7 linked regions of the Homo sapiens genome follow. The protein of the gene in region 6 purifies or fractionates together with the protein of the main gene of each other region. This does not show direct contact. Each region holds a gene or a part of one and is shown on either strand. Other genes may lie near its edges.

Evidence for each region.
Region 1: the proteins of PMPCB (region 6) and SUCLG2 purify together in Homo sapiens (affinity purification with mass spectrometry; 2 studies listed by BioGRID, with this or other methods). This does not show direct contact.
Region 2: the proteins of PMPCB (region 6) and GMPS fractionate together in Homo sapiens (co-fractionation; one large-scale study listed by BioGRID). This does not show direct contact.
Region 3: the proteins of PMPCB (region 6) and PPP4R3A purify together in Homo sapiens (affinity purification with mass spectrometry; 3 studies listed by BioGRID and IntAct, with this or other methods). This does not show direct contact.
Region 4: the proteins of PMPCB (region 6) and AMY1C purify together in Homo sapiens (affinity purification with mass spectrometry, with the first as the bait; 3 studies listed by BioGRID). This does not show direct contact.
Region 5: the proteins of PMPCB (region 6) and POGLUT3 fractionate together in Homo sapiens (co-fractionation; one large-scale study listed by BioGRID). This does not show direct contact.
Region 7: the proteins of PMPCB (region 6) and PPP4R3B purify together in Homo sapiens (affinity purification with mass spectrometry; 3 studies listed by BioGRID and IntAct, with this or other methods). This does not show direct contact.

What each region holds. Positions count from the first base shown.
Region 1 is NC_000003.12:67,497,613-67,501,112, forward strand, and holds part of SUCLG2 (succinate--CoA ligase [GDP-forming] subunit beta, mitochondrial isoform 2 precursor), read right to left. Parts: intron 684-3,500; coding exon 522-683; intron 1-521. UniProt on the Homo sapiens protein: GTP-specific succinyl-CoA synthetase functions in the citric acid cycle (TCA), coupling the hydrolysis of succinyl-CoA to the synthesis of GTP and thus represents the only step of substrate-level phosphorylation in the TCA.
Region 2 is NC_000003.12:155,912,150-155,915,649, reverse strand, and holds part of GMPS (GMP synthase [glutamine-hydrolyzing]), read right to left. Parts: intron 1,232-3,500; coding exon 1,080-1,231; intron 1-1,079. UniProt on the Homo sapiens protein: Catalyzes the conversion of xanthine monophosphate (XMP) to GMP in the presence of glutamine and ATP through an adenyl-XMP intermediate.
Region 3 is NC_000014.9:91,461,811-91,465,310, forward strand, and holds part of PPP4R3A (serine/threonine-protein phosphatase 4 regulatory subunit 3A), read right to left. Parts: coding exon 3,440-3,500; intron 1,068-3,439; coding exon 925-1,067; intron 430-924; coding exon 239-429; intron 1-238. UniProt on the Homo sapiens protein: Regulatory subunit of serine/threonine-protein phosphatase 4. May regulate the activity of PPP4C at centrosomal microtubule organizing centers.
Region 4 is NC_000001.11:103,752,898-103,756,044, reverse strand, and holds part of AMY1C (alpha-amylase 1C precursor), read right to left. Parts: intron 2,497-3,147; coding exon 2,363-2,496; intron 1,547-2,362; coding exon 1,424-1,546; intron 1,331-1,423; coding exon 1,231-1,330; intron 1-1,230. UniProt on the Homo sapiens protein: Calcium-binding enzyme that initiates starch digestion in the oral cavity.
Region 5 is NC_000011.10:108,484,885-108,488,384, forward strand, and holds part of POGLUT3 (protein O-glucosyltransferase 3 isoform 1 precursor), read right to left. Parts: intron 1,557-3,500; coding exon 1,273-1,556; intron 1-1,272. UniProt on the Homo sapiens protein: Protein glucosyltransferase that catalyzes the transfer of glucose from UDP-glucose to a serine residue within the consensus sequence peptide C-X-N-T-X-G-S-F-X-C. Can also catalyze the transfer of xylose from UDP-xylose but less efficiently.
Region 6 is NC_000007.14:103,307,435-103,310,934, reverse strand, and holds part of PMPCB (mitochondrial-processing peptidase subunit beta isoform 1 precursor), read right to left. Parts: intron 3,340-3,500; coding exon 3,227-3,339; intron 1,984-3,226; coding exon 1,840-1,983; intron 621-1,839; coding exon 460-620; intron 1-459. UniProt on the Homo sapiens protein: Catalytic subunit of the essential mitochondrial processing protease (MPP), which cleaves the mitochondrial sequence off newly imported precursors proteins. Preferentially, cleaves after an arginine at position P2.
Region 7 is NC_000002.12:55,558,623-55,562,122, forward strand, and holds part of PPP4R3B (serine/threonine-protein phosphatase 4 regulatory subunit 3B), read right to left. Parts: intron 347-3,500; coding exon 153-346; intron 1-152. UniProt on the Homo sapiens protein: Regulatory subunit of serine/threonine-protein phosphatase 4 (PP4). May regulate the activity of PPP4C at centrosomal microtubule organizing centers.

The sequences.
Region 1 (3,500 bases), on a different chromosome or scaffold from region 6:
GATAAAGGAATTTTGTTTTAAACCTAAATTTCAGAAGAGTTCTGCATATTAATACTGAGTTGAGCAGCAAAGGTTCTAATTTTTTACTAAGCAAAGTTTAACTGAGATGTTTTAAGTCAATATTTCTCAGTTGGGGTGATTTTTGCATACCACAGCCATTTGGAACTGTCTGAAGACATTTATTTTAATTTATTGATTTACATGGGTTTATTTGTCTTCACAAGTGGGGGTTGTTAGTAGTATCTAGAGGTTAGGATGCTAAACATCTTATGATGTACAGGACAGTAAAGAATTATCCCACCCAAACTCCCAATAGTGCCAGAGTTGAGAAATTCTGCTTTACACCAGTGACCATTAATCAAAACAACTTTGAGAAGAAACTTGGATACTTTCCTAAGACTTTTCAGCTACAAAAAAACTTATGTGCTTACTTCTTCTTGGTAAGTGACATTTCAGAAATCAAGGTTTCCTAAATTCTATAAGAATCCACAAAGCATTCTTTTGATATAACTGCTTCTTACCAAAGCAGGCAATGTTCCCATCTAGTCCTATGTATTTTAGATCATATTTGGCAGCTTCATTTTCAATGGGCTCATTCTCTGATTTGTCGTCCATAGCAAATATGTCTTTTTGTCGGAATTCTGCGTTGTCATCAAAGTTTATCTTGGCATCAAAACAGACAACTAAATAAAGAAGAAAACAATCATACTTGAATATCTCTTGAGGATCTATAAATTAAGTTCTTCAGGCTGGTAGGCACAAGCGAAGGGAAAGTTAAGTACTGTCATTTTTTTTCACATGTTACAGGCAGGAGAGGCTGCTTTGGCTTTCTTGACCTTTAAATTTTAGGGTTTGGTCCCTGTTGTCAAGGGACTTACGTTCTAGTAAAGAACATAGTAATTTCTACCTGTTGTTCTCATTTCAATAGAATAACCCCAAAAGTTGCCATCAACCATTAAAAGTTACAGACTGGCACAGCTTCATAGATACAGCTTTGATTCATTATTTTTATTATATATTTTTAGTATTTAACCACTAATTATCACCTTTCTCTTCTATGTAAAGAGAGACTAGACAATATTATTAATTATTTTGTCCCCTATTGTCCTTTTCTTGATATGGTAAAGTGAAATTTTTATTGAATCAGTATCCTGTCTAGTATTTCCAAAAGATTTAGTGGAAAGAATGCCAGACTAGAATCGCTCGATTTTTATTTGATCCTTAACTAACTCTGTAACATTTATTAAAAATAAAAATTGTATACACTTGAGTCTTGAACAACATGGGTTTGAACTGTGAGGGTCCACTTATAGCTGGATTTTTATTCTCAAGATGTAAAGCCCCAGAGGGTCGACTTTTCACATACATGGGTTCTGCAAGGCCAACTGCAGGAATTGTGCAATATGAACGAAGTTTGGTATATCTGAGATTCCTGGAACCGATTCCCTGCATATATTGAGGGACAACTGTGTATTTAAAGCATACAACATCATGTTTTGATATACATATAACACAGTGAAATAATTAAACACAGTGAAATGATTACTACACTGAAGCAAATTAACACATCCATCTTCTCATATAGTTTTTGGTTTTTCTTTTTGGTGTGGGAGAGCACTTAAAATATATACTTTTAGCAATTTCCAGCATACATTACTAACTCTGTAACCTTGATAAAATAACCTAGTTCTTCTCTGGGCCTTGGTTTTTTAATTGGAAAAAATGGCAATAACAATCCTTAAAACAAGGGCCATGCCCTTGATTCGTGCAGGACCATCTTATGGTGCTTCAGATTCAAGTTATAAGACACGAAAAGACCAAGACTGGTCAGTCACAAAGCCAGGATGCCAGGCATTATTAGCACAATTGTCTCTAGTTTCTGGAGCTGGTGGAAATCTCCTGGACCCAGCAAAACTCATTCCATAATAGGAGACAGACTACAGGGCACTTTCCTTGATTTACAGATCTCCTATACATACAATCAGGGAGAGACTGCAGTGGAGAGGGTGGCATTATTGGTATCTGGGTATCTGACCCCTTTTATTATCTCTCTTAGTGTAGAAATTAGTGTTCTGTGATGCCATGTCATCATAATGTTTGTTTGTTTGTTTATTTATTTATTTATTTATTTATTTCGGAGACAGAGTCTCACTCTGCTGCCCAGGCTGGAGTGCAGTGGCGCAATCTCGGCTCACTATAACCTCCACCTCCCAGGTTCAAGCGATTCTCCTGCCTCAGTCTCCCAAGCAGCTGGGACTACAGGCATGTGCCACCATGCCCAGGTAATTTTTTGTATTTTTAGTACAGATGGGGTTTCACCGTGTTAGCCAGGATGGTCTCGATCTCCTGACCTTGTGATCTGCCCACCTCAGCCTCCCAAAGTGCTGGGATTACAGGTGTGAGCCACTGCACCTGGCCAATGTTCTTTTACTTAACTTGGGATATTGATAGCCAGGAATCTTTGAACAATAATTTACAGATACTACCTATTCTCCTCCAGCATTGCTGACAGGCACCTGACTCTTGAAAGGGAAACAGCCACAGAACATTTCTCACTCACTGAAAAGCAGTGGCTATAATCTCCTAATTATACTTGCTTCTTATGAAAATAAAACATGGCTGTATATGGCATCTTGGCGTTAGAGACCCCAGGTAGAGGGTTTTCTCCAAGGGTTTCCCTACCACAATATTCAAGCACTTTGATACAAATCTGTGTAGACCAGCATATTAACATCTAAGAATACTTGTTATAAGTATATATATAGACCGCACATGACTTAAAGTAGCACTGAGCGACAAGAGAGAATCTTATATGGAAGTTAATGTCTGCTTAAATCCTTAGTCTTGCCCCAAAATGCCCAACCACTTTGTCCACACATTGTGAATGGTTGGAGTGAATGAGTAATTACTTTCCAAAATATTGAAAGCTTATTGACAGAATCCTACAATTACCAAACGAATTGGCCAATGTTCTCTGCTTGCTACAGGGGAATTTTCTCAGCAGTTAATGACTGGTATAATAATCAATAAAAAAGCAACTTCGTACATGGCTTTCCACTAGGTTTATAAATGCATTCTAATTAATTTATTAGTAATTTTAGCTCCTCCATTACTCATTGGCAAGACTACTTATAACTGACACCTTCAAAATGAATGGGCTAAGGTTATCAAATTGACTTCCTAAGGGAAGAGTTTCAAATAAAGGAATTCTTGGTTGAGATCAATAAACAAGTAAATCAAAATAGTTTCAAGCTGACCTTTGCTCCTTACAAAGACTACAGTTACAAGCTGCTTCAGAGAGAGAATAATTAATGGGTATGTATTCAAAGTTCAAAAGGCAATCCCAACTAAATGCCTGCAAAGCTAGATTTTCAGAGGATGTTTTTCTGTGGTATGACGTTCTCTCCAGGGAACAATCTTGACAGAACTTTGCAGTTAACCCAGAGCTTCAAGATGGTGACTATGGGATAAAAGGGGTGTATATCTACAACGGTCCTGTG
Region 2 (3,500 bases), on a different chromosome or scaffold from region 6:
GGCAGGCAGATCACAAGGTCAGGAGTTTGAGACCAGCCTGACTAACATGGTGAAACCCCGTCTCTACTAAAAATACAAAAACTAGCCGGGCATGGTGGCACACGCCTGTAATCCCAGCTACTCAGGAAGTTGAGGCAGGAGAATCGCTTGAACCCTGGAGGCAAAGTTTGCAGTGAGCCAAGATTGCACCACTACACTCCAGCCTGGGCGGCAGAGTGAGACTCCATCTCAAAAAAAGAAAAAAATTAGCTGGGCATGGTGGTGCATGCCTGTAATCCCAGCTACTCGGGAGGCTGAGGCAGGAGAATCGCTTGAACCCAGCAGGTGAAAGTTGCCGTGAGCCAAGATCGCTCCATTGTACTCCAGCCTGAGTGACAAGAACAAAACTCCGCCTCCAAAAAAAAAAAAAAACAAAAACAAAGGTATGTGAACATTCCATTCAAGAGCTTGAAATTAGCCATTGAGATAATCAATGAATTAAAGTCTATGATAAGCTGAATACATCTACTCTTAAAGACATCTATTCTTAAAATAATAGCCTGGCAATGTAGGCAAACATGTTTATTAAAACATAAAACAGTTGGCTGGGCATAGTGGCTCACACCTGTAATCCCAGAAGTTCGGGAGGCTGAGGCGGGCGGATCATGAGGTCAGGAGATCCGGACCAACCTGGCCAACATGGTGAAACCCCCGTCTCTACTAAAAGTACAAAAATTAGCTGGGCATGATGGTGCACCCCTGTAGTCCCAGCTACTTAGGAGGCTGAGGCAGGAGAATCACTTGAACCCAGAAGGCAGAGGTTGCAGCGAGCCGAGATCGTGCAACTGCACTCCAGCCCAGCCTGGTGACACAGCAAGACTCTGTCTCAAAAAAACAAAAAAAAAACCAAACAACAACAAAAAAACATAAAACAGTTTCTACTGGTCAATATAATGACAATATACAATAAAACTCTCAGCCACATAAGAAAAAGGATTAAAATTAGCTAATTTGGTTATTTGATATAGTGACAAGGAAAAACAAATACTAAGATTCACATCAAAAATAGTACATGTTGAGGATATTAAAAACAAAGGTACCTTAACAAAAGTATCCCCAATGATTTTTCTTTTCTCTTCAGGACTTGTGGTCATATTTAACGTTTTGCTAATTCTTTTCCGTGGGGTTCTATCTTCATCTGATATTGGTAGGGTTGTTGTTCCATTGTAGAAAGAATGAGCAGCATTTATCACTGGAGGAAAGGGGAGAAGCGTTTTAAATTGGTATAACATGTTTTTTAATCAAAAATAACAAGTCAAAATACAGAAAGAAAAGCTATTTCTTTCCCAGTCTGAAGAGCAGTCCTTTGATCTCCCCTAAATCTGCCTACAAATTTCAATAAACTATCAATATTCAAGAATTATTGGCCGGGCCCGGTGGCTCATGCCTATAATCCCAGCACTTTGGGAGGCCGAGACAGGTGGATCACGAGGTCAGGAGATCAAGACCATCCTGGCTAACATGGTGAAATCCCATCACTACTAAAAATACAAAAAATTAGCTGGGTGTGGTGACGGGTGCCTGTAGTCCCAGCTACTTGGGAAGCCGAGGCAGGAGAATGGTGTGAACCCGGGAGGCGGAGCTTGCAGTGAGCAGAGATTGTGCCACTGCACTCCAGCCTGGGTGACAGAGAGAGACTCCATCCCCAAAAAAAAAATAAGAAAAGAAAAAGAACTATCAATAAATCCTGAGTAACAGAATTCAGATACAGGCACTCATTAAATTTTGTTTCTGTGAGAATCTCCTGGCATTTAGATCTAGGGCCATGACATCACAAATTATGCTGATTAGGGCCGGCACGGTGGCTCACACCTGTAATACCAGCACTTTGGGAGGCCAAGTTGGGTGGATCACTTGAGGTCAGCAGTGTGAGACCAGCCTGGCCAAAATGGCAAAACCACATCTCTACTAAAAACACAAAAATTAGTGGGGCGTAGTGGCACATGTCTGCAATCCCAGCTACTCAGAGGCTGAGGCAAGAGAATTGCTTAAACCTGGGAGGCAGAGGTTGCAGTGAGCCGAGGTTGTGCCACTGCATTCTGCCCTGGGCAACAGAACAAGACTCTGTCTCAAAAAAAAAAAAAAAATTTATGCTGATTGTTTTCCCTCTCTTCAGTGCTTCACCAGAGCAACAAGCAGAAGCCACAGCAAGAAGCTTAGCCCCAAAGAAGTCAAAAGCACCGGCTCCTAAACGGAGTCAAAGCTGTTGGAATCACACCCTAGTGTCTTGTAAAACTAATATTTATGAACATACATTTAACAATCCTTGGCTTTTTATTTAATGACAAGAAACTAAAAACTAAGATCTCTATTTGCTAATAAAACTTAGCTACTGGAGGCCTTCACCGTAAGATGACAAGGCAGCTGGCTATTTCATTGTGGAAAAGCCAGTGAATTTGTAGGTCTTTCCTGTACCTGGTCAACTACCCAGAGAAGACATATCTACTCTCCTGCCTATTGGCATTCTGGCAGTTAAACAGAGGAAGTGGTAGGAAGAGGGAATCACCATTCAGCATAGAGAATTTTACTTAATCCTGTTCTTAATGTAGAGTCTTACCTCCACCCTCAACTATGCCTGGTATTAGTAGGCTCAAGCCCAGAACCTCTCGTTTAGCCCCTCTAGAGAATACATCCACAGTGTTCTGATGGGGAAGGAGAGCACAGTTTGCTCCTGTGCTAAGGAAAAGGATCTGCTTCTCAGATTTTTAACTAATCCCTGTTTTAGGCTAACCCAGAGACCAATGTCCCAAAAAGAACCCAATGCTTCAAATTCCTGAGCCTCCCCAGAAGTCTACAGCACAAATCAGCTTGCTTTTTATTGGCTTCCTTCCCACCCCACCCCAAGGTTGTGAATTCCTCCATTCTGCTATGTCAGTTACCAGGGACAGATCCAAGTTTTACAATTTGAAGGACTCCTTCAAGAACCAGAATAACAAATAAGATACTAAAAATCTTAAGTTATACTGGGATGGCTAACAAGTACTTAACTATACACAGAAATAATTGCAAATCACATATATACCACTAAACCCATACTAAGCACATCCCCAGCTCATCTTTGTCTTAGCCTGATTTCAAAATGCCCACAGCTATTCCAGCACCACCTAACAGAAAACAAGTCAGAGTTGAAAGAAAATAAACAACTACAAATTATCAAAATATCTTGCAAATTTCACAAAAACCTATCACCATGTGAAGATACCATTGGGGACCTTCCCAGGATGTTGGGAGAGACCCCCCTAGCTTAAACAGAGAAAATCCACCTTTACCCATCTGCTTTCCACTTTCCAACACTTTATTGAAACCATCTGTCTTCTGTCATCTCCTCTATCCCACATCCTTAAGGTATTACACTGTTTTATGCTTTTACTGTTATTTTAGAGAAGTTTCAAAAAAATAGACTCATGTTCACATCATACTTACCTACAAGTCTTCATTTTATTCAGCCTTTTGGTATCAAT
Region 3 (3,500 bases), on a different chromosome or scaffold from region 6:
ATCATATTTAGTATCCCTACCCTTCCTGAAATAGTATATTCCTTATTCAACTCAAATTAAGAAAACTTAAGTTTATGCCTACACAACACTGCTATTCAGTCACATCCCATAAAGCAATAGAGTCTTTAAACCGTATGCCATCACACCTTCCAAGCAAATAATCATTTTGTCAAGAAATAAGAATAAATCTAGAGTAAGAAAGCCTTAATTTTCTCTTGCCCATTTTTTTCCAACATACATTTCTTCCTTTCCATGAATTTACTTATTGGATCCATAATATCATCATCATTTTTAGTTTTGTCAGATGGAGACACTACAGCTTCTCCATCTTCCATGTCATCTTCATCTGTGTTAAACCACATCTCTTCTTCATCTTCTAGTGTTCTGGCATCTCTTCGATATCTGTGATTCCTCAAAATGGAACGCATACTATGAGTAGGGAAGAAAGAGTAAATACAATCATATATGGACTTAATTGTACTGTTACAGATGACTTATTAAACTTGTTAACATAGGGAATTAACATGAAATTTACAAATATTAAAGTATCAATGTAAATCCAGGTATTTAGATTAATGTACAAAATTTTAAATAATAATTTGTAACCTTAGTAACTTGTAAATTCAAAGCAAGTAATATAATCCTCTGATTTTATTTGGAACACATGAAGCCTCACTTCCACTGTTTGGTCTTTTTTTTTTTTTTTCCCTTATCTAGCCTGATACATGCCTGAGGTATTATACTAATAACCAGCCTAATCTTCAGGGAAACATTTATGTTGACCCTTACAGGAAGCTACAATTTCTATTTGCTATCTGCTGATTTCCCTGTTCCTTGTCAAGCCAAATAATATCAAATAAACAATAAAGCCACTACCATACGACTTGATGCTGAACGAATAGGTTTAAATATATGGTAATTTACCTGTCAAGTTTGGGATTATCTTGCCTTTCTCTTTGTTGTTCAAATCTCAGTTTTAATCCTTTAAATGTCTGTACATAATCTACATCTTCCAGTGCTTTCCAGTAATTTTCAATTACATGAGCAGTTAATGATTTTATATCTTCCTACAGAAAAGAATAGTAATGAAAAAATGATAGGAAAATGTCATTTTAGCAAGATGAGGCTTAATTTAATCAATTCATACCCACCAAAAATAGCTTAATTTAATAAAACTACATAATCTTAGAGATAACCAAACAATAAAAAATGGGAATAACGTACACTGGCTACTATAGTAGTCCCCAATTTATCTATGGGTCTTTTTTTTTTGAGATGGAGTTTTGCTCTTACTGCCCAGGCTGGAGTGCAATGGCATGATCTCGGCTCACTGCAACCTCTGCCTCCTGGATTTAAGCGATTCTCCTGGCTCAGCCTCCAGAGTAGCTGGGATTACATGCATGCACCACCACGCCTGGCTAATTTTGTATTTTTAGTAGAGATGGGGTGTCTCCGTGTTGGTCAGGCTGGTCTCGAACTCCCGACCTCAGGTGATCTGCCTGCCTCGGCCTCCCAAAGTGCTGGGATTACAGGTGCGAGCCACTGCACCCAGCTATCTATGGGTCTTTACAAAGTAAATGCCCAGGTCTTGCCCTAGGTGATTCTGATTCTGATGTGCGGGCTGGGTATGTGTATTTTTTAGAGATGGGGTCTCGTTCTGGCACCTAGGTTGAGATATAGTGGTATGATTATAGCTCACTGCAGGCTTGAACTCCTGGGCTCAAGCAATCCTCCCACCTCAGCCTCCTGAGCAGCTAGGACTATCGGCATGCACCACCATACGGGGCTAAGTTTTAACAAAAAATTTTTGTAGAGATGGGGTCTTGATATGTTGCCCAAGCTAGTCTCTAACTCCTGGCCTAAAGCAATCCTCCCACTTTGGCCTGCCAAAGTGCTGGGATTACAGGCATAAGCCACTATCCCTGGCCATGGACATATATGTTTTATTAATTAATTTTTATTTTAGGTTCAGGGGGTCCATGTGCGTATTTGTTATACGGGTAAACTGCGTGTCACAGGGGTTTGGTGTATAGCTTATTTCATCACCCAGGTAGTAAGCACAGTACCCAATAGGTAGTTTTTCAATCCCCACCTTCTCCTACTCTCTACCCTCAAGTGGCTCTGGTATCTGTTGTTGTTCCCTTCTTTATTTCCATGTGTACTCAAAGTTTAGTTCCCACTTACAAGAGAGAACACACAACAGCCATGCGTATTTTAAAAGCATGTCACAGGCCGGGTGAAGAGGCTCATGCCTGTAATCCCAGCAGTTTGGGAGGCCAAGGTGGGCAGATCACCTGAGGTCAGGAGGTTGAGACCTGCCTGGCCAATAGTGAGACCCTATCTCTACTACAAATACAAAAATTAGTCGGGTATGGTGGCGCATGTCTGTAATCCCAGCTACTCTAGAGGCTGAGGCAGAAGAATCGCATGAACCTGGGAGGTGGAAGGCGCAGTGAGTCGAGATCATGCCACCGCACTTCAGCCTGGGTGACAGAGTGAGACTCTGTCCCCACCCCCCTCCCTCACCCCCCAAAAAAAGCATGTTACAGAAAAGTTCTGGAGATGAATAATGGTGATGGCTGCCAACAATGTGAATGTTTACTTTAAAATGGTTAAAATAGCAAGTTTAATGTTTTATATTATTTTATCCCAGCTTTTAAAAAAGCACGACATCCAGGTACTGTGGTATGCACCTCCAGTCTCAATTACTTGTGAGGCTAAGGTGGGAGGATCGTTTGAGCCCAGCTGGGCAACATAGCAAAACCCTGTCTCTAAGAAACAAACAAAACAAAAAGCCATGCCAGATAAATTTGCACAGCATCAATGAGAACCACTAGCTTATTACATTACTAGAGAATAAAGAGTATTATGAAATTGGTCTTTAGAAATGTGTAAGTTAAGAAAAACACATTCAAATGCTTATCTGTCAAGTGTAGTTTTGCTTTCTTAAAATGATTACTGTGACCATCCTACAAAGCAGCAGTCCCTAACCTTTTTGGTTTCATGAAAGACAATTTTTCCACCAACTGGGGTGGGAGTGGGGGAGCACAGTTTCAGGATGAAATTGTTCCACCTCACAGTTAACCAAAGGGTTCATGCTCCTAGGAGAATATAATGCTGCTGCTGATCTGATAGGAGGTAGAGCTCAGGCAGTAATAATGCCTGCTTGCCAGCAGCTTACCTCCTGCTGTGCAGCCTGGTTCCTAACAGGCTATGGACCGGTCCGCGGCCAAGGGGTTGAGGACCCCTGCTATAACAGATTTGTAGCTGCTGAGAGGTAAGATGTAGCTTGACTCAAATCTCTCACAGGCTTTTAGTACTTTTTTTTTTTTTTAAATCTCTCCAAATATTATCATCTCAAGCCAAAATACTAGGTAATGCATATTCAATTTTCTCAAACAATTAAAATGAAAATTCTAATTAAAAATACAGAACCTACCACTCTAATAAATTCAAACATCTCTATTATGGCAGAGTTCATCAGATTGTAGCGGGATCCA
Region 4 (3,147 bases), on a different chromosome or scaffold from region 6:
ATGTGAAAATGCCTTGAACATGACATATGCTAAATAAATATTGGAGGCCGTCATGCTTCTTTTTAGATAAATGTACAAAATACTACATCTGAACATTTTTTTTTATAAATTGACCATATTTTTAGTATTATGCTTTTCTGATTGGCACTTTAAGAAATCTTCATTAAAAAACACAGAGTAACCCTAGGAAGTTTATCAGTGTTCACCTTAAAATCACGTCATATGGTGAAAAGTGAACAAAACTTAAGAGTTTATAGCATGCAGCAGTCCTGTCAAAGTGGGAATGTTATAGTAATAGAAAAAATAAAAGAACTCTCTGACTCCTAACAACAGAAATAAGACCAATTAGTAGAAATTATAAGAAGTTGTCTCAATATAAAAGTACACCTTCTAAATATTAAAGCTGTTTAACAATAGAATCAGTTGTTATACATAGTAGCGGACTTCTCAAACTGAAAGGAATCTAAAAAAAGCTAGCTAGATATCTGTGTGACTCATAGGAAGGAGGAATTTCTGCTTTAGTTCTGAAGTCTCTGATGCTGTTTCTCAACCCTTTAGTTTAAAAGAAAACCTTCTACTAGCTTTCCAAATATCTTTACACTCTTATTTCTCTGTTCCTTTTTGAAACTACTCAGCAGAGTGATGTCTTTACCATACTCCCAAATATTTTTCTCATTCTTACCTTTCTTGGAATACTCTCTATAAATTTCTATCCTTTAGTACATACAATTTCCTTCCTCTTATAGTATACTTTCCCTATTTAACTCAGCTGAACTGGATCATTTGTTTCTATACCATATAACTTTTTAACAGTATTTAAAAGACATTTATATTGTTCTCACTACGGGCAGATGATGTTTTAAGTTCTCTACAAGGGTTGGCATCTATATTCTTCCAATTAAACCTGAGGAAGGTACGAAGTATATATTTTAATCCCTGTGCCTAGCTCTTATTTTTAAGTGGTTTTTTTAATTTTTATTTTTATTTTCCCTGCGGGCTAGGGGGATGTTTGTCATATCTCTGAAAAAGCTTGCTATTCTTTTTCAATGGAGAATATAAAGTTTATTCCTTTAATATAACCTGCATTACTAAATCACAACCCTGTATCAGGTTTACAATAATTAAATATTTGTTGAATAAATAAACACTTAATAGTTGTCATATTAAATTAGGAGAAGATTGCCTCTTTTTTCTTGAGAAAAGGATATTTTGAACAACTCCAAAACTTACTTTTCCATTTTCAAAATATCTTGGCCAACGGTAGCTTGACATTACTCGTGTAAATCCATAAGGATGAGCAAGCATAAATCCAACTGCCATTTTGTACAGCCTGAAAGTTACATAATTATATTATCATAGAATATCACAATATTCATACCATCATTAAAAGAGGTGTTAAAAAATAGAGAACTTGGTTTTCTACCTAGCATCCCAGAAGGTAAGTATAGAGGCTCCTCCAGCGCCATGTCCTCGTTGATTGTCATGGTTATCCACAAAGACAAGCGCTCTGTCAGAAGGCATGAAACCCCAACCTTCTCCCCAGTTCCTATTTTTGAAACATAAGATATACGTTGATGTATCATTTCACAATAGTTTGAGAGTAACTCTACTGTGCATCTCTTTCTGTAAGGCATGGCATCTGAAGATTAAATTCTTTCTCTAATTAGATGGTTACTCTGTAAGATATATATATATACACACACACACACAAACACACACTCACATATATATACACACACACCTCATAAACAAACACACGTGTGTAATCTACATATATATAGTCCATATTTGTATATACATGTATGGAATACTTATATTCATATTACAAATATAAAATGTTTGTTATTAAAAAATTTCCTTTCAGAGGTTTCAGCACATTATCATTTAGAGGCACTCCAGAAGGATCAATATCCACATCACATTATACAGAATGTCAAACTAGATTAAAATAAGGCTTTAATATTGTATTGTTATAATATAAATCATTTTACATTTCCAATTCGTATAAGTAAATACAATAGCATGGACACTTTGTACATACTTTATAAATGATAGGATCATTTTAATAATAACCTGGCTTTAAAAGATTATATGCAAACATCAGTCAAATCCAGTATATTCATCTTGTACGCAGACAGAAACTCCTAGGGTAAGTTTAGCGTTCCTAGGCATACTGTCTTGTGACAGACACTCTAAATACAAAAGATGATTGATTAGAGTTTAGGGCACTAGAATACTTATCATTAACAACTGACTCCTTAATAGTTGTCTGAATAAGAATGTTCCAGAAGATAACTCGCACTGGGGTAGTATGACTAACAGATCTATGAAATAGTTCAGGGGAAAAGTTGTATTTATTTACTTTAAGTAAGACATCTTCTCTCCATTCCACTTGCGAATAACTGTGCCGAGTTTTGCACCATACTTGAATTCTGTCACCCGGCCATTACCAAAGTAGTCACTGCTTTTAATTGGCTCACCACCCAGATCAATTACCTAGAAGAAATTTAGGAAAAAAAAACATTTTGCATAAGGACTTTAAAGCATTTTAACCGATAAGTTTATATTATATAAAAATTAGCTTTCAGCTATTTCTGAGTTATTTTAGACTTGTTGTGCTTTGTTCTTTAGAGACAGGGTCTTGCTATATCGTCCAGGATGGTCCCAAACTCCAGGCCTCAAGGAATTCTCCTGCCTCAGCCTCCCAAAGTGCTGAGTTACATGCAAGAGCCACCACGCCTGGTCCTATTTGTTATATGAAACGCTCAAAATCGTTTTCTTATTCTTATTATCTTCATCGGTAATATTCTTATATTCTTTTTTTGATAAAGTATACACTACAATATTGAAAGAAACATAATGTCAAAGTTACCTGTTGTCCTGTGAGAATACTTACCTAATTTTTAGTCTTGTACATCAATGATAATAATAACAGCTCACAGGAATACGATATTTACTATCTGACTGACTTTTTTTGATAAATATTAACTCATTTCATTTTCCAAAGAAAATAAAGACATAACTATTATCAGTATCCTACATTCTGTGTACCTCCATAAAACCTGTTGTGATAAAGAATTAGATATGCTGTATGTGAAGAAGAGGAGGTTAAAGAACACTGTTTTAAGGAAATGACTCAGTCTTTAT
Region 5 (3,500 bases), on a different chromosome or scaffold from region 6:
TGCTCTGCTTAAGAGGAATTTAGAGTTCTGCAAATGTGGAAAGAGAGGCTGAATAGTGAGATAAGGGGGCGCTATTGGGGGATGTGGGGAGCCTGAAAAACAGAGGGCCTAACCACATTAGTGAGAGGCTAAGAACTTAAGGTCAAGGACAGCCCTGAGAAATTCCCAGAGGCAAGTATGACTGAGAGTCTGATTAGTGCAGAGATGTCTATTTTTAAATATCAGGGTTTTTGTTTGTTTGTTTTTTAGTATGCACTGGTGAAAAAAAAAACAACCTGTTTCTGGTAGCCCAAGCTTTGACAAAATGTCCCATGCACGCTATCTTCTAGGTATGCTTAGGGTAAAACAAGGAAAATGTGTTCTAAGTTCAAGTCATTTTGAGGTGAAGAGAAGAAAACAGCTGCAGAAGGTGAAATCTAAGCAGGAGTAGTATTCAGCGGAACAGAGAACTTAAAGCGGCCTCTTGACATGGTTGTGCATGCCTATAGTCCCAGCTAGGATCAAGGCTGAGGCAGGAGGATGGCTTGAGCCCAAGAATTTGAGACCAGCCTGCTCAACACAGCAAGACCCCATCCCTATTTAAAAATAAATAAATAAATGAGACTGTTCTGTTTGGATATTGTAAATATAGACTATTTGAAAAAAAGAATAAGAAGTAACCTTGTTATAAATCTCTGGAAGCTCAAAGAAAGCTTGGGAGTGTCCTGTATGGCATACCTACCTGGGATGGGGGCTCAGCCACTTTATTCTATTTTATTTATTTATTTATTTATTTATTTATTTATTTATTTGAGATGGAGTCTCACTCTGTCACCCAGGTTGGAGTGCAGTGGCGCAATCTTGGCCCACTGCAGCCTCCACCTCCTGGGTTCAAGGGATTCTCCTACCTCAGCCTCCTGAGTAGCTGTGATTACAGGCGCCCACCACCACGCCCAGCTAATTTTTGTATTTTTAGTAGAGATGGGGTTTTGCCATGTTGGCCAGGCTGGCCTTGAACTGCTGACCTCAGATGATCCACCCGCCTCAGCCTCCCAAAGTGCTGTGATTGCAGGTATGAGCCACCATGCCTGGCCTCAAGCCACTTAATTTTAAATCTTACAGGAAAGTAAGATCCACAAAGATGGAGAACATGATGAACACTCAGGTTGCAAATATCTTAGATGCCCATTTCTCAGCCTGAAATCTGTTTCATCCTTTGTCATTATAATTCTAAACATTTAAATGTTATACCTAAATAATTAAACTGTATTATCAATTCATTCATTCTCCTACCTTTCTTGTCAATGATAACAAAATCTCATCAGAGAACATCTTGAAGTCTGTGTATTTCCCTAAAGATCTCCGGTAAACATGGTTATTGAGAATCGTGTAATGAACAATGGCACCTCTCTCATCCCCAAACCTTTTGGGGACTTCTTTTAGCATTTGCTGGAGATTGATGCTGGGAAAGGAAGCAAAATCTTTTGCAATCTGTGGTTCCTTGGTTGGACAAGAAAGAGTCTTCTGCCAGGCCTGAGGATCTTCCGGACACTCACAGTACTCATGGTACACTGGTCCTAGGGAAGGAAAACATGAAAAAGGCCGCACTCCATTAGCAAGCACCACAACACAGGGAGTCACTTCTGTCTCTGCTTCTTGGTGAATTCTAAGATTATCCAGAGATAATCTGCCCTAGACAAATCAGTGGTGTAAGTGATTATGTTAGAGTCCTACACTTTTACTTTCCTTTTCACACCACCTTGGATAAACAGTTTAGTATATGCCCTCTCCCAATCTAACCTACTCTCGGTCACTTAGCTCATAAATTCATCTCTAATAAGGTATAAATGGCTGGCAAACATGAAACAACTTACCTTTTAGCAAGGAGAAAAAGAACGTATTAATTTTTAGACATTATGTAAACCAAAAATAAAATTCTAAGCCTCCTAGACCGTCCAAATGGATCCCTCCTTTTGGCCAAGGGCATTCCAAAGTTAATCTGAAAAACTAGTTCGGCCACGAAGGGAAAGGGGAACCAGGCATGCCTCATTATACCCTCCTCCCTTTTGGAATTCAGGCCTAGCTGACCAGCATTAACATCAACACAAACTTTGTTGAACTGACTCTTTAAGTCTGATAAGAAACATTTGCAATCTCCTCTGTCGCCTGCTACCTGGAAGCCTCATCTGCATGATAAAATCTTGGTTTCCACAAACCCTTATCATAAGCCCAGACATTCCTTTCTATTGATTCTAAGTCTTTACACAATAACTTAATTCTTTCAACCAACTGCCAATCAGAAAACCTCTGAATCTACCTATGACCTGGAAGCTACCCCCAACCCCTCCCAACCACCCCCACCCCTTCCAGTTGTCCCTCCTTTCCAAACCAAACCAATGTACATCTTAAATGTATTGATTAATGTCTTATGTCTTACTAAAATGTATAAAACCAAGTTGTAGCCTGATCACCTTGAGCACAGGTTCTCAGGATGTCCTGAGGGTTGTGTCATGGGCCATTGGTCATTGAGTCTGAGAGATGGGGGAACAATAAGGTAAGCCCTACAATTCCTACAGCTTACTGCTTAAGGGAGCTTCGAGGCTGTAGTGCAGGGAGGGAAACTGTAGGCAAAAACAGGTAGTCTCACTGAATTGAATATTTGGCTCAGAATAAAGCTCTTCAAATATTTTAGAGTTGGACTCTCTTCTTTTTTCTTTCTTTCTTTTATTTTTGTTTTTTGGTGGCAGGGGGACAGAGTCTCACACTGGCTGAGACTCTGGCAGAGTCGCCCAGGCTGGAGTGTAGTGGCGTGATCTCGGCTCACTGCAACCTCCTCCTCCCATGCTCAAGTGATTCTCCTGCCTCAGCCTCCCGAGTAACTGGGATTACAGGTGTGCACCACCATGTTTGGCTAATTTTTGTATTTTTAGTAGAGACGGGGTTTCACCATGTTGGCCAGGCTGGTCTCAAACTTCTGACCTCAGGTGATCCACCTGCCTCGGCCTCCCAAAGTGCTGGGATTACAGGCGTGAGCCACCATGCCTGGCCATAAGTTTGACTCTTTTCATTGACAACAAGTAACAGGGACTGATGTACCACCCCACCTGAAACAACCAGAAAACACTCCCACAAAACATATGAAACAATAGTTTTTTGTTGTTTTTGTTGTTGTTTTTTTGAGATGGAGTCTCACTGTGTTGCCTAGGCTGGAGTGCAGTGGTGTGATCTCAGCTCACTGCAACCTCCGCCTCCTGGGTTCAAGTGATTCTCCTGCCTCAGCCTCCTGAATAGCTAGGATTACAGGCACTCACCACCACGCCCAACTAATTTTTTGTATTTTTAGTAGAGACGGAGTTTTGCCATATTGGCCAGGTTGGTCTCGAACTCCTGACCTCAAGTGATCCACCTGCTTCGGTCTCCCAAAGTGCTGGGATTACAGGCGTGAGTCACCGCACCTGGCCTTAAACAATAGTTTTTAAGGCACTAGGTATTAGGCAATGAAGGACAGTGAGTCTGAGAGA
Region 6 (3,500 bases):
AGGGTGGATCTCCTGAGGTCAGGAGTTCAGGACTAGCCTGGTCAACATGGTGAAACCCCATCTCTACTAAAAAATACAAAAAATTAGCCAGGCATCGTGGGCATGGTGGTGCGCCTGTAATCCCAGCTATTCGGGAGGCTGAGGTGGGAGAATGGCTTGAACCTGGGAGGCGGAGGCTGCAGTGAGCCGAGATGGCACAACTACACTCCAGCCTGGGCAACAGAGCAAGACCTCATCTCAAAAAAAAAAAAAAAAAAAAATTCTATAGTATAAATCAGCTTCACATCTTGAGACTTAGGAAAAACCAACTGCAACCTTTGAAAACATGGCAACTACTGTTTATCTAGGTCTCTTAATTAAAAGGTAAAATTACCATAAATCACCATAAAGTATAAATAAAAAACTAGTTTAAAACGAATTAAAGGCAAAATTTAAATTACTTAAAGCTATTTTTCTCACCATTCTTTTTGAACAACATGTAGCATGTCTGCAACAGTGGATGATTCACAAACCATATACAGTCCCCATAATCCTGTATCTGTGTAGGAAGTGTTGAAAGACTGAAAGCTATGGCAAAGATTGCCATGACAAGTGAGCTGGGCCAGCTTGCTAGATAAATTCTGCAAGGAAAAAAAAATTCCAAGAGAATTTTAATTATACATGTCCAAAATACAGAAAGAAAAATGGAGTGTGTGGAAAATAGTGAATATCCTTAGAGGCTGTTTCCTAGTTTTATTCAACATCTCAGTAGTAGAGTTAAAATTCAGTATGACTAAGAATTGTGTTTATTATCTCACTTACCCAGTGCACCCCCTGGAGAAATTCATGTTATAAAAGCAATGAGTCCTTATAATTAATGTAGTAGCTATACCTACTTCTAAAACTAGATGGCTATTATCAACCCAATTTCTAGGACTCTTGGCTACATACGCTTAAAGATTCAAAGTTATATTGCATATGAAGCTTAAGATTATTTAGATGAAATGTATTTTGGAGAAATCTATGAGTAAAGACAAATCTATACAATGTGTTTTGAAATAATTCCAACTTACAAAAAAGTTGCAAAAACAGTACAGAGAATTTCATTTATCTAGATTCCCTGTTATTTTACCATGTTTGCTTTATTCTCTTTATACAAGTTTTTTCAACTGAGTTTTAGATGTGATGCTTCTTGCCCCAAATACTTTAGTATGTACTTGTGAAAAACAAGGAAATTAATGTTCTTACATCACCTTGGTATAGTTCCTCAGTATCTGTGGAGAATTGGTTCCCAGATCCCTGTGGATACCAAAATCCACAGATGCTAGAGCCCTCATGTAATATGGTATATGTAATATTTGCATATAAGCACATTCTCCTGTATACTTTAAATCATCTCTAGATAAATACCCAATCCATGTAAATGCTATGTAAATAGTTGTTATACTATATTGTTTAGGAAGTGACCAAAAAAAAAGTCCATACATGTTTAGTACAGATGCAACCATCCATTTGTTCCCCAAAATTTTCCACCTATGGTTGGTTGAATCCACGGATATGGAACCCACAGATATAGAGGGCCTACTGACTATTAAAATTAGGATATTAACATTGACATAGTACTTCTAGCTAATTCTGTCCTTATTCAAATTTTGCCACTAATAAACTTTGTGGCAAAGAAAAAAAGAAACTTTTTCTGGCCCACATGCAATCCAGGATCAGTTTATATTTTTAAGTCAGAATTCACAGTACAAGACTCTATTCTGCCACTTTAAAAAAGGATTCTTACAAAGAACTTATATTTAAGAAAACATGATAATCTTCCATCTGTTATGGAAAATTTCTTTTAAAATCACTTACCATTCCTCCCCCAAAAGAGCGATCCCAGTTGCCAATCAGCGTGTTTGCAACCATGAGACAGATTGTATCTGGATGTGCCCAACCAACAGCTTCAACAGCTATTGCAAGGTGCGCCAAAGGCATCTTGTCATCCCTCACACGAATCTAGTTAAGATAAAGCAGGAGGACCTCTAGTTAAGATTAACATTATATAACATGCTTATTAACAAGGAAAAAATCACCAGTCCCATTAACTGCAAAGTTAAAATGCACACCAGGACTCTATTTTGATTTTTTAACTATCAGGCCTCATTACATTGTTGAGTTTAATCTAGAAGAATTAAGACTAAATTAGGGAAAAATTACTTTTCCCAAAGCATTTTACTACAGACAGGCACCACATGGTTTACCTGGTCAAAAGGGTTGCATCATTTCACTGGTAGAAATCAATCCTTTGTGTTTGTCAATCTGAATTTGTCTTTTTCTTTCTTTTTTTTTGAGACAGAGTCTCACTCTGTCGCCCAGCCTGGAGTGCAGTGGCACCATCTCGGCTCACCGCAACCTCGGCCTCCCATGTTCAAGCAATTTTGCCTCAGCCTCCCGAGTAGCTGGGACTACAGGCATGCACCACCACGCCCAGCTAATTTTTGTATTTTTAGTAGAGACGGAGTTTCACCATGTTGGTGAGGCTGGTCTCAAACTCCTAACCTCAAGTGACACACTCGCCTCAGCCTCTCCAAGTGCTGGGATTACAGGCGTAAGCCACCGCACCCGGCCTCAATCTGAACTTTTCTATTGAAATGTCATATTGACGTTACAGGTTTATTTTTGTACTGCCAATGCTACAGTTCTAGGCAGCTGCCAATATCAGGGCATTTTCCAGATACTACTTTGAGCATCATCCTCAACATGGCAAACTAAGCAGCTAGTGGGGCTTAAAGCTAGTTGATAACTAGTAGATCCCCTGCAAGTTCTGGCTCTAACAGTTACTACCCCCTCCCAAAACATACTGTGGGCAAAACTGAGCCAAGAGTAAACCTGAAGTGAAAGTCAAAATACGGGGTTTAAAAGATTACTTCCAGATATTACAATATGTAAATTGGCATAGTGCCAAAGAAAAAGCACAAAAAGACCAAATTATAAACTGCTCTTAAAAACTTTGCTTCCTTTCAGACTAGAATGGAGAAATTTAAAAACAAAACAAAAAAAACCTTGCTTCCTTAGGAAGAAAAATAGGTGGTTAAAGAATACGGAAGAGGAAGGAATGTAAGCAAATGAGTACATCCTCTTCCCTTTTCCTATTATTCCATTCTTTTCCTACTGGAAATATGCACATTTTGTTTACTTATGTGTAAATACAACACAAGGAATCCAAAAGGCTAAATACTAGCTGGAAGGCTTGCCCTACCTCACTTCCTGTGAATTTGCAGGGAGGCAGAGCTGGTATTTCTCCTTTGTGTGTGCATAAAGAGTCACCGAAATGAAACTTTGCTAAGTCAAGCAATTCATCATGGGAAACACCTAAATTGAAAGAAAATATTTTCACATGTATCTAGCAGCAATATAGTTTACAATAAACCCTAGGTGGTATAATGTGATGTACATTACACATGAACTATCTACACTCACTAAAAGCCATTATTTAAGAGTAAGCTCACATAGCACACCTATTTCCTTGGTGT
Region 7 (3,500 bases), on a different chromosome or scaffold from region 6:
TAAAATAAAATTCTACAATCAACATTTTGGTAACAGAAAAATTCTAAACAATTCATTGAAATTGTTTTGATTATCCAAATTTTTTTCAGTAAACATGAAAAAATCTCACAGACGGGAAAAGCAAAGTTTGTGTGTAATGCTGTTTCACCTACCTTGGTGGCTGTTACTGACGTAGGCAAGTTTGTGGTTTTGGAAGAGGATCCATTAGAAGTTGCTGGTGGTATCTGAGCCACTACAGATTTACTGTTTGTTCCATTAGCAGCACTGGCAGAGTGGGAGAAAGTAAATTTGAAGCCACCAGGAGATGTCCTTTTGGGAAGGTTTTCCTTGTCTTCACTTTCTTTTGCTAAAGCAAAAGTAAAATTTTGAACGTATATCAATAAATACTGCTAAGTCAAAACATCTAAAAACAGCAGTAATTAAAAAACTTATAAAACATTGCTGCCCGGGCATGGTGGCTCACGCCTGTAATCCCAACACTTTGGGAGGCTGAGGCAGGCAGATCACCCAAGGCCGGAGTTCAAGACCAGCCTGACCAACATGGAGAAACCCCGTCTCTGCTAAAAATACAAAATTAGCCGGGTGTGGTGGCGCATGTCTATAATCTTAGCTACTTGGGAGGCTGAGGCAGGAGAATCACTTGAACCTGGGAGGCAGAGGTTGTGGTGAGCCGAGATCGCACCACTGCACTCCAGCCTGGGCAACAAGAGCGAAACTCCGTCTCAAAAAAAACCAAAAAAACAAAAAAAAATAACACCAAAATTAATTGCCTTTGTTTCCTAAGAACTTTTGAAAAAGAACATGATGTGTACAGTGATGATATGGTCTGGCTCTGTGTCCCCACCCAAATCGCAAATCAAATTGTAATCCCCACATGTCAGGGGAGGGACCTGGTGAGAGGTGACTGGATCATGGGGGTGGATTTCGCCCTTGCTGTTCTTGTGATAGTGAGTTCTCACGAGATCTGGTTGTTCCAAAGGGTGGCACTTCCCCCCTTGCTCTCTCTCTCCTGCTGCCATGTAACACATGCCTTGTTTCCCATTCACCTTCCGCCACAAGTTTCCTGAGGCCTCCCCAGCTATGTGGAATTTTAAGTCAATTATACCTCTTTTCTTCATAAATTACAGTCTCAGGTAGTTCTTTAGAGCAGTGTGAAAACGAACTATACAGAAAATTGGTAACAGGAATGTGGTACTGCTATAAAGATACCTGAAAATGGCAGGGCGCAGTGGCTCACGCCTGTAATCCCAGCACTTTGGGTGGCTGAGGAGGGTGGATCACTTGAGGTCAGGAGTTCAAGATCAGCCTGGCCAACATGATGAAACCTATTCTCTATTAAAAATACAAAAATTAGCTGGGGGTGGTGGTGCACACCTATAATCCCAGCTGCTCTGGTGGCTGAGGCAGGAGAATTGCTTGAACCCTGGAGGCAGAGGATGCAGTGAGCTGAGATTGTGCCACTGCCCACCAGCATGGATGACAGAATAAGACTCCATCTCAAAAAAAAAGATACCTGAAAATGTGGAAGCGACTTTGGAACTGGGTAATAGACAGAGGTTGGAACAATTTGGAGGGCTTAGAAAAAGACAGGAAGATATGGGAAAGTCTGGAACTTCCTAAAGACTTGTTGACTGGTTTTGACCAAAATGCTAACAGTGATATGGACAATGAAGTCCAGGCTGAGGAGGTCTCAGATGGAGGTGAGGAACTTATTCGGAACTGGAGTAAAGGTCATACTTGGTATGCTTTAGCAAAGAGACTGGCGGCATTTTGCCCCTGCCCTAGAGATCTGTGGAACTTGAACTTGAGAGAGATGATTTAGGATATCTGGTGGAAGAAATTTCTAAGCAGCAAAGCATTCAAGTGGTGGCCTGGGCTGGGCACAGTGGCTCATGCCTGTAACACCAGCACTTTGGGAGGCTGAGACAAGCGGATCACGAAGTCAGGAGTTGGAGACCAGCCTGGCCAACAGGGTGAAACCCTGTCTCTACTAAAAATACAAAAATTAGCTGGGCGTGGTGGCACACACCTATAGTCCCAGCTACTTGGGAGGCTGAGGCAGGACAATCAGTTGAACCTGGGAGGCAGAGGTTGCAGTGAGCTGAGATCATGCCACTGCATTCCAGCCTGGGCAACAGAGAGAGACTCCATCTCAGAAAAAAAAAAAAAAAAAAAAAAAAAAAAAAAAAGAGGCCTTCTGGCGGTTTCTAAAAGCGTATGCTCATATGCATGAAGAAAGAGATGGTCTGAAATTAGAATTTATATTTAAAAGGGAGCAGAGCATAAAGTTTGGAAAACTTGCAGCCTGACCATGCAGTAGAAAAGAAAACCCCATTTTCTGGGGAGAAATTCAAGCTGGCTGCAGAAATCTGAATAAGTAACAAGGAGCCAAATGTTAATTCACAGGCCCAGAGGCCTAGGAGGGAAAAATGGTTTTGTGAGCTGGGCCCAGGGCCCTGCTGCTCTGTGCAGTCTTGGGACACCCTGCATCCCAGGTGCTGCAGCTCCAGCCATGGCGAAAAGGAGCCAAGGTACAGCTTGGGCCATGGCTTTAGAGCGTGCAAGCCCCAACTCTTGGTGGCTTCCATGTGACACGGGGCCTGTGGGGTAGAGGCAAGAACTGAGGTTTGGTAACCTCTGATTCTCAAACCACCTAGATTTCAGAAGACATATAGAAATGCCTGGATATCTAGGCAGAAATCTGCTGCAGGGGCAGAGCTCTTATGAAGAACCTCTACTAGGGCAGTGCGGAAGGGAAATGTGAGGTTGGAGCCCCCACATAGAGTCCCCACTGGGATACTGCCTAGTGGAGCCATGAGAAGAGGGCCACCATCCTCCAGACCCCAGAACAGTAGATCTACCAACAGCTTGCACCATGCACCTGGAAAAGCCACAGGCACTCAACTCTAGCCCATGAAAGCAGCCATGGGGGCTGTACCTGGCAAAGCCATAGGGGCGAAGCCAGCCATGGCCCTGGGAGCCTACCTGTTGTATCAGCATGCCCTGGATGTGAAACATGGAGTCAAAGGAGATTATTTTGGAGCTTTAAGATTTAAAGACTGCCCTGCTGGGCTTTGCACTTGCCCAGGGCCTGTAGCCCCTTTGTTTTGGCCAATTTCTTCCATTTGGAATGGGAGCATTTACCCAATGTCTGTACCCCCGTTGTATCTTGGAGGTAACTAACTTGTTTTTTATTTTATAGGATCACAGGCAGAAGGGATTTACTTTGTCTCATATGAGACTTTGGACTTGGACTTTTGAGTTAATGCTGGAATGAGTTATGGGGGACTGTTGGGAAGGCATGATTGGTTTTGAAATGTAAAAAGGACATGAAATTAGGGAGGGACCGGGGTGGAATGATATGGTTTGGCTCTTGTCCCCACCCAAATCTCATTGTGAATTGTAATCCCCAGGTGTTGGAGGAGATGACTGAATCATGGAGGCAGAAAACCCCCTTGCTATTTTTGTGATAGTGAGTTCTCACGAGATCTGGTTGTTTC